3 linked regions of the Homo sapiens genome follow. The protein of the gene in region 1 purifies or fractionates together with the protein of each later gene. This does not show direct contact. Each region holds a gene or a part of one and is shown on either strand. Other genes may lie near its edges. The genes, in order: SEPTIN6, RGS3 and SOCS7.

Evidence for each region.
Region 2: the proteins of SEPTIN6 (region 1) and RGS3 purify together in Homo sapiens (co-immunoprecipitation; one large-scale study listed by IntAct). This does not show direct contact.
Region 3: the proteins of SEPTIN6 (region 1) and SOCS7 purify together in Homo sapiens (affinity purification with western blotting; one study listed by BioGRID and IntAct). This does not show direct contact.

What each region holds. Positions count from the first base shown.
Region 1 is NC_000023.11:119,630,639-119,634,286, reverse strand, and holds part of SEPTIN6 (septin-6), read left to right. Parts: intron 1-794; coding exon 795-927; exon of another isoform or gene 928-970; intron 971-3,648. UniProt on the Homo sapiens protein: Filament-forming cytoskeletal GTPase. Required for normal organization of the actin cytoskeleton. Involved in cytokinesis. May play a role in HCV RNA replication.
Region 2 is NC_000009.12:113,466,681-113,470,328, reverse strand, and holds part of RGS3 (regulator of G-protein signaling 3), read right to left. Parts: intron 1-3,648. UniProt on the Homo sapiens protein: Down-regulates signaling from heterotrimeric G-proteins by increasing the GTPase activity of the alpha subunits, thereby driving them into their inactive GDP-bound form.
Region 3 is NC_000017.11:38,350,327-38,354,706, reverse strand, and holds the start of SOCS7 (suppressor of cytokine signaling 7), read right to left. Parts: upstream 2,864-4,380; 5' UTR 2,655-2,863; coding exon 1,675-2,654; intron 1-1,674. UniProt on the Homo sapiens protein: Substrate-recognition component of a cullin-5-RING E3 ubiquitin-protein ligase complex (ECS complex, also named CRL5 complex), which mediates the ubiquitination and subsequent proteasomal degradation of target proteins, such as DAB1 and IRS1.

The sequences.
Region 1 (3,648 bases):
AGTGATTCTCCTGCCTCAGCCTCCCGAGTAGCTGGGATTACTGGCGCCCACTACGACGCCTGGCTAATTTTTTGTATTTTTTAGTAGAGATGGGGTTTCACCATGTTGGCCAGGCTGGTCTCGAACTCCTGACCTCAGGTGATCCACCCGTCTTGGCCTCCCAGAGTGCTGGAATTACAGGCGTGAGCCACTGCACCCAGCCTATCTCCTATTTCTTTAAAAATAAGCTTAGGCCAGGGGCATCTCCCACTAGACCATGAGTTCCTTGATGGCAGGTATGATGGCTGTTGGCTCTAGAGGCTGAGTGACTAGCATCATGTCAATTAGTACTGAGTCTAGCACATATGGAGTCTCCTCAAGCATTTGTTGAAATAGTTCATTAATGTGGTCAGTTTCAGAGCCAGGGCCTGGCAGCATTGTGCAGTGGGAAAACCCAGATGAAGAGACAGGAGACTCAGCTTCTGGTCAAAGTTCTCCCTCTAACTAGCCGTGGGGCCTTGAGTAAGACACCTCACCTCTCTGGGCCTCAGTTTTCTCATCCGTAGAACAAGAGTATAGAACCAGATATTCTAAGTCTCTCCAGTTCACTAGGGTTGCCCCATCCCCCTCCAGAATCCCTGTGGGCATGCTGTCATGGGCCAAGCCAGGTGCCCACAGCTTTGTGGTTCTATTTTTGTACCTGGCTCACAACTGGGGAAGGGAGGACAGAGGAACCCAGTGAGGATCTTTGGGGCCAGTTTTATCAAATAGGAATCATTCCAAAGGAAGAAGAATTAACCTGACCATGTTCGCAGTTTACAGGAGACATATGAGGCCAAAAGGAACGAGTTCCTAGGGGAACTCCAGAAAAAAGAAGAGGAGATGAGACAGATGTTCGTCCAGCGAGTCAAAGAGAAAGAAGCGGAGCTCAAAGAGGCAGAGAAAGAGGTAAATGTGAGCCTGGTGATTATTAAAATGTCAAGAAACAACAGCTGCTGGTGAGACTGTGGAAAAATAGGAACGCTTTTACACTGTTGGTGTGAATGTAAATTACTTCAACCACTGTGGAAGACAGTGTGGTGATTCCTCAAAGACCTAGAATCAGAAATGCCATTCGACCCAGCAATCCTATAGATCACTTTATTATAAAGATACACACACACATATGTTCACTGCAACACTATTCACAATAGGAAAGACATAGAATCAACTCAAATGCCCATCAATGATAGATTGGATAAAGAAAATGTGGTACATATACACCATGGAATACTATGCAGCCATAAAAAGGAATCAGAGGATGTTCTTTAGAAGGACATGAGTGGAGCTGGGAGCCATTATCTTCAGCAAACTAACACAGGAACAGAAATCCAAACATTGGGCCGGACACTGTGGCTCACGCCTGTAATCCCAACACTTTGGGAGGCCGAGGTAGTTGGATCACCTGAAGTCAGGAGTTCGAGACCAGCCTGGCCAACATGGTGAAACCCTGTCTCTACTAAAAATACAACAATTAGTGGAGTGTGGTGGCACATGCCTATAGTCCCAGCTACTTGGGAGGCTGAGGCAGGAGAATCGCTTGAATCTGGGAAGTGGAGGTTACAGTGAGCTGAGATCATGCCACTGCACTCCAGCCTTGGTGACAGAGCAAGACTCCATCTCAAAAACAAAAAAAAAGAAAGGAAACACTTAATTACTTCACGATTCTCTTCCACATTTAACCTGTCACACTCTCAAGGGTTCTCACCAAAGCCCATGACAAGGGTATTGATTTTTTTTTTCAGTTTCACTTAAAAAAAAAAAATGTCTGTTGGCTGGGCGCGGTGGCTCACGCCTGTAATCCCAGCACTTTGAGAGGCCAAGGCGGGCGGATCACAAGGTCAAGAGTTCGAGACCATCCTGCCTAACACGGTGAAACCCCGTCTCTACTAAAAATACAAAAAAATTAGCCGGGCGTGGTGGCGGGCGCCTGTAGTCCCAGCTACTCGGGAGGCTGAGGCAGGAGAATGGCGTGAACCCGGAAGGCGGAGCTTGCAGTGAGCCGAGATCGCGCCACTGTACTCCAGCCTGGGCGACAGAGCGAGACTCTGCCTCAAAAAAAAAAAATGTCAGACAGGTGCCTTGGCTCAGGTCTGTAATCCCAGCACTTTGGGAGGCTTAAAGCGAGGGGATTGCTTGAGCCCAGGAGTTTAAGACCAGCCTGGGCAACATACTGAGACCCTGTTTCTATTAAAAATAGAAAAAATTGGCTGGGCGCAGTTGCTCACACCTGTAATCCCAGCACTTTGGGAGGTCGAGGTGGGTGGATCACGAGTTCAGGAGTTTGAGGCCAGCCTGGCTAATATGGTGAAACCCTGTCTCTGCTAAAAATACAAAAATTAGCCAGGTGTGGTGGTACGCACCTGTAGTCCCAGCTACTTGGGAGACTGAGGCAGAAGAATTGCTTGAACCCAGGAGGCGGAGGTTGCAGTGAGCCGAGATTGTCCCACTGGACTCCAGCCTGGGCAACAGAGCGAGACTCCATCTCAAAAAAAAAAAATAATTACAAATACAAAAAATTAGCCAGGCATGGTTGCACGTGCCTGTAGTCCCAGCTACCCAGGAGGCTGAGGTAGGAGGAATGCTTCAGCCGAGAGATCGAGGCCACTGCATTCCAGCCTGCGTGACAGAGTGAGACTCTGTCTCAATAAAAAAAACAAAAATGTCACCCAGCACTTTTAGGAGGAGAAGTGAGGGGATCTCAAAGACAAATGAATAAAAGTGCAACAAACAAAAACCAGGTTAAGGCAATTGATAGGCAGCCCTAGTGACTAGTAAGAGCTGCTTTAGGCCAGGCGTGGTGGCTCATGCCTGTAATCCCAACACTTTGGGAGGCCAAGGTGGGCGGATGACAAGGTCAGGAGATCGAGACCATCCTGGCTAACTCAGTGAAACCCCGTCTCTACTAAAAATACAAAAAATTAGCCAGGAGTGGTAGCACGTGCCTGTAGTCCCAGCTACTTGGGAGGCCGAGGCAGGAGAATCACTTGAACCTGGGAGGCGGAGGTTGCAGTGAGCCGAGATTGTGCCACTGCACTCCAGCTTGGGCGACAGAGCGAGACTCTGTCTCAAAAAAAAAAAAAAAAGAAAAGAAAAAAGAAAAGATCTGGTTTATACAGCAAGTCTGTCACTCACCCACCTAAGTGACAGTGCCAAATACCCCCAGGACCCGGAGAACTAACCTTCTTCATCGTATGCTGCAAGTGCTACAGAATCCTAAACTCTCTCCTGAATCCATGAAAGAAAGTGAAATTCGGCTTGCTCTGCTCTTACTATTCAGGGTAGTTTATTGCATTCTAGTTTGTGACTGTCTGTGCCTCTTGTTCTCTGATCCACTTACCACAATGGCATGCCAGAATATTCTTTTTTTTTTTTTCCGAGACAGAGTCTCACTCTTGCCCAGGCTGGAGTGCAGTGGTGCGATCTCGGCTCACTGAAAGCTCCGCCTCCCGGGTTCAAGTGATTCTCCTGTCTCAGCCTCCCAAGTAGCTGGGATTATAGGCAAGCGTCACCACGCCCAGCTCATTTTTGTATTTTTAGTAGAGACGAGGTTTCACCATGTTGGCCATGCTGGTCTAGAACTCCTGACCTTATGCCACCCACCTTGGCCTCCCAAAGTGCTGGGATTGA
Region 2 (3,648 bases), on another chromosome or scaffold:
TGACAGAGAAAACAGGAAAAATCAACAAGGATACGGAATATTTGAACAATATAAAGAGCAAACTTGACCTAAACTTGACATACACAAAGAACACTGCACCCAACTGCTGCAGAATCCTTTTCAAATACACAAAGAACATTTATAAAAATTGACTCTTTGGGAGGCCAAGGCAGGTGGATCACCTGAGGTCAGGAGTTCGAGACCAGTGTGGCCAACATGGTAAAACCCCATCTCTACTAAAAATACAAAAATTAGCCAGGCATGGTAGTGGGTGCCTGTAATCCCAGCTACATGGGAGACTGAGCCAGGAGAATTGCTTGAATCCAGGAAGGGGAGGCTGCAGTGAGTTTACATTGCGCCACTGCACTCCAGCCTGGTGACAGAGTAAGACTCAGTCTCAAAACAACAACGACAAAAAAAAAAAAAAACAACTATATGCTGAGGCATCAAGTAAATTTTGATTAATTTCAAGGAATTAAAAGGATGGAGAGTATATTCTCTGACTAAAATGCAAAGTAAATATAAAAATATTACCAGAAAATCCCCAATATTTAGAAATTTAGAAATATACTTCTAACTAACCCAAGGATTGAAAAAGAAATGACAATGAAAATTAGAAAATATTTTGAAGTAAATGATAAAGAAAAAAACTGCATTATCAACATGCGTCTTCTAAATACTAGAAATGTTCAATTTTTGACTCTGGTGAAAGTTACAAAGGTTTTTTTTTTGTGAGAAGTCACTGGATTGCACATTATTGGGGGGACACTTTTCTGTCTGTCTGTATAATATTTCAAACTTTTTTAAATGTTTAAGAAGAACACACAAAGCAGAATGGGAAAAGAGGACAAAGGGCTATCTATGGGCCAGAAACTTTGAGGAATTTCTGAAAGCTCCTGAGCAGTTGGACTCTGAATGACAGAAAAGCCAATAAATGCTGAGGAGTATGACCAGCAAATGATGAGCTCCTGAGAAACAGTTGGATAGGTTTCCCCAACCATGCCAGGGAATCTCCCAGGCTCAGAGCAGTGGGACTGGAAACACGTGCCAGCCAGGGGCAGCTGGCAGGGACACATTGAAGGCCTCCAGTTCAGGGCCTGACCGTGCACTGCCCAACACACCACGCAGCTGGCTGACATCTGTTCCCAAGCTTCACTCTCACTACAGAAAATGAATTATTTATCTCCACGGCTTCTAAAGAGAGGCAGAGAAAGGAGTGAAACAGGCCCCAGCTAACATTGTACCAACACAACAAACATGAGGCAAAAAAAAAAAAAAAAAAAAAATGCTGAGCAAATCAATGACACTCCTAAGTCTACTCTGCCTCCAGAACCACATCTTCCCAACTTCCCTATGGCAAATCAGTGACTCCAGGCAGTCCTCTCGAGCCTACATTTAGAGCTGCTCCCGACAGCTTTCATTTTGTAGGTTCATAGGGGGCTGGCATTTCTAAAGAGAGGTGCATTTTGTCACCCAATGTCCACAGCCACCTGCAGACCTCAGAACATGTCCAGCTTGCCCACCATCTCCAGACCCAGATACCCTGCAGAAAAGGCAACCTGTTCTCTCTCCTGACCACTCACCATATCCAGGTGACTAGAGATCCCAAGCAAGTTAAAATTTGGTTCAGAGACCCCAGGTAAATTAATAATTTGCTTCATCAGTCAAACTAATAAGTTGGTATCCCTTCAAGATGATATTTTAAAACTATCTATCCAACATTTTTGTGAACTTGAGTTTTTTTATTTTCTATATAAAATATTATGCCTAAAATTCATATGGAAATTCAAGGGACCCAGGACAGCCAAAATGATCTTGAAAGAGAAGAACAAAATTGGAGGATTTACACAACCTGATTTCAAAATGTACTACAAAGCAACAGTAATCAAGACAGTATGATACTGGAATGATAATAGGCAGATAGATCAATGGAATAGAATTGAAAGCCTAGAAATAAGCCGTGGGTTTATGGGCAATTGATTTTCAGTAAAGGTACCAAGATCATCCAATAGAGAAATAATGGTATTTTCAACAAATGGTACTGGGACAACTGGATAGCCACAAAAAACAATGAAGTTGAACTCTTACCTCATACCATACACAAAAATTAACTCAAAGTGGATCAAAGACCTAAATATAAGAGCCAAAACTATAAAACTCTTAGAAGAAAACATACAGGTAAATCTCTTGGTAACTGACAGAACCTTAGATTTGGCAGTGAATTCTGAGATATAACACAAAGTACAAGTAACAAAAGATAAAGTAAATTGAACTTCATCAAAATTAAAAATGTTTGGGGTTCTGGCTGGACACAGTGGTTCATGCCTATAATCCCAGCACTTTGGGAGGCCAAGGCAGGAGATCGCTTGAGTCCCTGAGTTCAAGACTAGCTTGGGCAACATAGGGAAACCTCATCTCTACAAAAAGTTTTTTTTACATAAGAAAAATTAGCCAGGCATGGTGGTGCACATCTGTAGTACCAGCTACTCAGGAGGCTGAAGTGGGAGGATCGCTTAAGCACAGGAGGTTGAGGCTGCATGGTCAAAGAGGAGCCATGATCATGCCACTGAACTCCAGCCTGGGCAACAAAACAAGACCCCATCCCCAAAAAAAGTTTGGGATTCAATGAACACTATCAAGAAAGTGAAAAAAACCCACAGATAGAGAGAAAATATTTGCAAATCATATATCGGTTAAGGAGCTTGCATCTAGAATATATAAAGAAATCTTACAACTCAATAATAACAAGACAAAAAGCCCAATTTTAAAATGAACAAAAGATCTGAATACATTCTTCTCCAAAGAAGATATATAAATAATGAGCACATGAAAAAATGTTCAACATCACGGGTCATCAGGAAAATGCAAATCGAAACTATAGTGAATATCAATTCACACCCACTAGGATAGCTAGAATTAAAAAGTCAGATAATAACAAGTGTTGGTAAGGAATGTGGAAAAACCAAAACCCATATACACAGCTGATGGGAACATAAAATGATACACCTACTTTGGAAAAGAGTTTGGTAGTTCCCTAAATAGTTAAACACAGAGTTACCATAGGACTCAGCAAATCTACTCCTAGGTATATACTGTGTGTATATGAAGAGAAATGAAAACATTTGTCCACACAAAAACTTGTTCACAAATGTTCATGGCAGTATTATTCATAATAGTCAAAAGGGAGAAACAGCCAAAATATTCATCACCAGATGAATAAATTTTTAAAATGTGGTATAGCCATACAATGAATACTACTCAGCCATAAAAATGAATGGAGTATGATATCTGCTACAACATGGATTAAACTTGAAAACATTATGCTAAGTGAAAGAAGTCAGTCATAAAAAAAAAAATACGATTCCATTTATATGAAATGTCCAGAACAGGCAAATCTACAGAGGGAGAGAATAGATTAGCAATTGCTTTGGGCTCGGGACAAGGGAGGACGGTACAAGCTAAAGAGCATAATGTCTCTTTTTGAGGGAATGAAAATGTTCTGAAATTGTGATAATAGTTACACATCTCTGTGAATATACTAAAAACCATTGAATTGTATGGTTTAAATGAGTGAATTGTATATATCTGAATTATATTTCAATAAAGCTGTTACAAGAAAAATCAGCAAATATCCTAATCAAAATAAAA
Region 3 (4,380 bases), on another chromosome or scaffold:
TGATGAAAATTTCATCTGTGCTGGTAAGTGGAGCATCGAATACAGAGCCTACCACAAAAAAAGCTGTTTCAGCAGCCACCCACTTTTCAAGATCTGAACTCCCAGCATGAATTCACTGGGAGGCAAAGCAGAAACACTGGCCTACCTAAAGGGACAACACACTGATTTCTTTAGAAAGTTTGGATTTGGCCTCATCCCCAAGATAAGCCCATGGCACAGCTGTTCAGAAAGGGCAAGAAAGCCAAATCCACCCAACATTTTCTTGTTGGAGTACCCAAGTTCCCTTGAAAACAGAAGTCTATGGATGAGTGGTTCCCAGTTCAGGATCAACTGGGGAGCTTTTAAAAAGTTCAAACTCTTAGGCTTTTCAAAAAGCTCCCCAAGTGATCTTAGTTCACAGTAAGGTTATCAATTTATACCTGTTCTTTAGCTTTGGTTTATGGCTGCCAGTATGTCTCAAGAATCCATCACGTAAACCACAACAAAACCCATTCCAATCTTTCTGAGAACCCAAAGAAGTACAAACCACAATGGCAGTTACTACAAGGTAACTAATTTCACTGACACCAAAGTTGACAGCTTTGTAAACCAACGCTACAGATGTAACACTGGATGCCGAAGATCAGTCCACCCCTCAGAAATGCAGGAAAAAAACTCAACGTCTATGTTTGGAATTTTCATCAATCGGCCTAGAACTCATGTACCTGTCTCTACCTTGTCTATATCTTACTGGTACTTAGAATTCTCAAAAGGCTTTGAGAGAGCGCAAAGCTATTTTCTCGAGACAGGCTCTCACTCTGTCACGCAAGCTGGAGTGCAGTGGCACGATCACTATTCACTGCAACCTCCGCCTCCTGGGCTCAAGTGATCCTCCTGCCTCAGCCTCCCGAGTAGCTGGGACCACTCCCGCCTAATTTTTTGTATTTTTTTCGTAGAGATGGGGGCTAATTTTTTGTTTGTTTGTTTTGTAGAGATGGGGTTTCGCATGTTGCCCAGGCTGGTCTCAAACTCCTGAGCTCAGGTGATCCGCCCTCCTCGGCCTCCCAAAGTGCTGGGATTACAGGTGTGAGCCACTGTGCCCGGTCTGCTATTTTCTATTCTCAGAGACAGTGGTCAGCACCCAAGTTTGATATGCCAAGTTCATCTAAGGGAACAACCAGGAAAACAGTAAAACTTTGAATAGAGGTGTCCAATTGATTGCTGGCCTACAATTGCATTTGAAGATTCTCCTGTCATTTGCATGCATGAGTGTGAAGGGAGGTGCGGTGCTGGTACACAGAATAAGCAAGGCGGTCAAGGTGCAACACCAGCTTTTTGCCCCAAAGGCCAAACACTTCCAGCAATCTCCCTTCCAGGGACAATGGCACACAGCCGCCTTGGAAAAACTTAAAAAGCCATGCCAGGATGGGGATGGGAGGATGGTCTGAAACCATCTTCCAACAAGACAGATGCAAACCAGCTGAGAAGTGTCACGGAGTGTGCACTCTTTAAGAGTGAAAGCTGTTTCCACAATTAGCGCTGACCTTATGCGAGATGTTACCACCTTTGGTCCCAAGTCTCTGCCTCCTCCTGAAGACCCTATCTTAAGAACTGTCAGGATCGCGATAGCAATAGATAAAAAGGGAAACCAAACAAGAAAAGGAAGTTTGTCGGCCAGCCCCCGGCCGGTCTCACCTCCCCGCGTCCAGCTCCCGGCCCGCAGAGCCTCCCATGTCTGTCAGGCTCGCAGCTGAAGCAGCCAGCTCTCCAGAAGGCCTCTTGCCGGTCCCATCCCCACCGCCGGAGCCACCGTTGCAGCTCTTGGTGCGAAAGAGGCGACTGAGGCGGATTTTGAAGGAGCCCTTCCGAGAAGGACCCGCGAGTGGCCGGAGGGGCCCGGGAGGAGGCGGGGGCGGGGGAGGTTGCTGCTGCTGCTGCTGCTGCTGCTCCCCTCTACTCAGGCGCCCCAGAGGGACCAAGTCCTGCAGCGGGAAGGGCACCGGAGGTAATTCAGGGCCTGGGGGCTGCAGCAGAAGCCGGCCGCCCCCTCCTCCTCCGCGACCCGGGCTGCTGAGCTCCTCTTCCGAGCAGCTGTTAGTCTCCAGGCTCTCGGCCTCCGATTCCAAGCCCTCCAGGACCAGCAGCGCGTCGCTCGTTTCCGTGGGGTCCTCCCCGGCCTGCGGGGCGGCAGCAGGCGGCTGGGGCTGCGGAGGGGGCGGCTGAGGAGGACACGGACACGGGCAGCAACCCCCACCGACTGTCTTGACCCCCGGCCCCGCCGGCTGCCCGAGCCCCAGAGCCGCCAACTGCGCCTCTAGTCCAGCCGCCGGGCCCCAGGTCCGCTCGAGCGCCAAGCCCGGCGGCAGGGCCTTGGGGTCCAGGGCACAGCGGTGCCGGGGACACAGCAGTTCCGAGGGTCCCGGCTCCGGGGCCGCCTCCACGTCCTCCTCCTCCGGCGGCCGACCCACGTTGCGGAACACCATCAGCTGCGGCGGCCGGGAGCCCCGCGGGCCGGGCCGCGCGAGGAAGGGTGGCGGCGGGGGGCCATGGCCCGGGGGCGGTGGCGGAGGGCCTGGCTCGGGGGCCGCCTCTCCATAGCCAAGGAGGCGGCTCAGGACGCGGTACGAAGCGGCCGCCGCCGCCGCCTCGCCATCCCGGAGCTCGGCCTCCTGCATCGGGGAGAGGGAGGGAGGGCGGGCGGCTGGGAGCCGGGCTGGGGTGGGGACTAGGCCGGGCCCCGCCGGAGCCCCGCCCGCCGCGGCCCCCGGAGCGACAGCGCTAACGGCCGCCGCGGCCTCTGCCTCATAGAGGGGGGCGGGGGGCGCGCGGAGCCCAGCGCGAGCCCAGGCCGCGCTCCGCCACCGCCGAGCACCGCCCCCAAGCCGACGTCACTTCCGGAAGGGCTTAGCCACGCCACTTTCCCCAGGGCGTGCTCGCGCTGGCCTCCACGGCGAGTGACGCCGCGCGCGCCCCCGGCCCCTATTGGCGGTGAGCTGTCTGTTGGCTGGCGTTGGTCTCTTTTCCCGGTCCTTGCTTTTCACTTCCTGGGCGCCCAGGCCCAGGCCATCCCATTCGGTAGAGTGGAGAGGCCTTGGAAACCATGGTCTGGTCCTGGGAGCGCGCCGCTGGCCTTGGGAGCACATATGGTTCTGCCATCTACGCCGCTTGCGATGTGTGACCTTGGCTGAGTCATTTCATCATTAATCTGTATCTCCGTCCGCCTGGCACCCAGTGAATGTTTGTGGAATCAGTACATGAATCGTGTTCTAGACCCAGTGCTGTACTGATAAATGTGTAACAACCAGCTCTCTGGGGGGAGAACGGGAATGTATGCACATATATAGGTACAAAAATTTGTCGTTAAGTTTTACTGACATAAAGGATGTGTAGTTCACAATTTACAATTAATAGTAAATTGGCAAATTCCATATAACTCTTTCTCACAGAATGCTTTCATTGATTTTTGCCAAACTCTTATATGGGTAGCCAAACTGTGATTGCAGTTGACCTAGGAGTGTAATTGTAAAGGTGAATGTTGGTTGATAAAACTGAAAAAGACAAAACTTAATTGGATTGTCAATGATGGGAGCAACTTCTTTGCTGAGTCAGAAAACGGTTTCAAATACTGGAAGAATATTTACTCAATTTTTGTGCTATTCATAATGTAACGGCTACAGACAACACATTAAGTTTTTGCTGTTGTTGAGATGGAATCTTTCTCTATTGCCCAGGCTGGAGTGCAATGGCGCTATCTTGGCTCACTGCAACCTCTGCCTCCCGGGTTCAAGCAATTCTCCTGCCTCGCTCCAGGTAATTTTTTGTATTCTTAGTAGAGACAGGGTTTCACCATGTTGGCCAGGCCAGTTTTGAACTCCTGACCTCAGGTGATCCACCCGCCTTGGCCTCCCAAAATGCTGGGATTACAGGCGTGAGCCACCGCGCCCACGCCCGGCCTTCTTATCTTTACACAGGGATAAGGATTGCAATTTTGCTTGCTTGCAGGCATGTTGTGAGGATCAAATAAGATCAAGCTTTTTGTGTGGAGGAGGTGAGACTGGAGGCAGGGAGCCCATTGAAATAGTCCCAGTGGGAGATATTGAGAGATGCAAGGGAAAAGGAGGAAGGATCAGCTGCAGAACTCAGTGACTTCTAATACCTGAGGGTGCATTGAGGGGAAGAGGGTGGAGGGTTGAGTCCTGCAACCAGAGGGACCTTTTCAGAATGGAAATGTGTTCATAGCCTGTGATTAAAATTGTTCATGGCTTCCCATTGTTCTTAGGCTAATGTGTGATCTTGTGATCTGACCCCTGTGTGATCTAACCCCTGCCTCTCTAGCCACATCCCCTGCTAAGCTCCACCTTGTTCTCTGTTCCCTGCATTCCCATCAACCTTGCGGCAGGC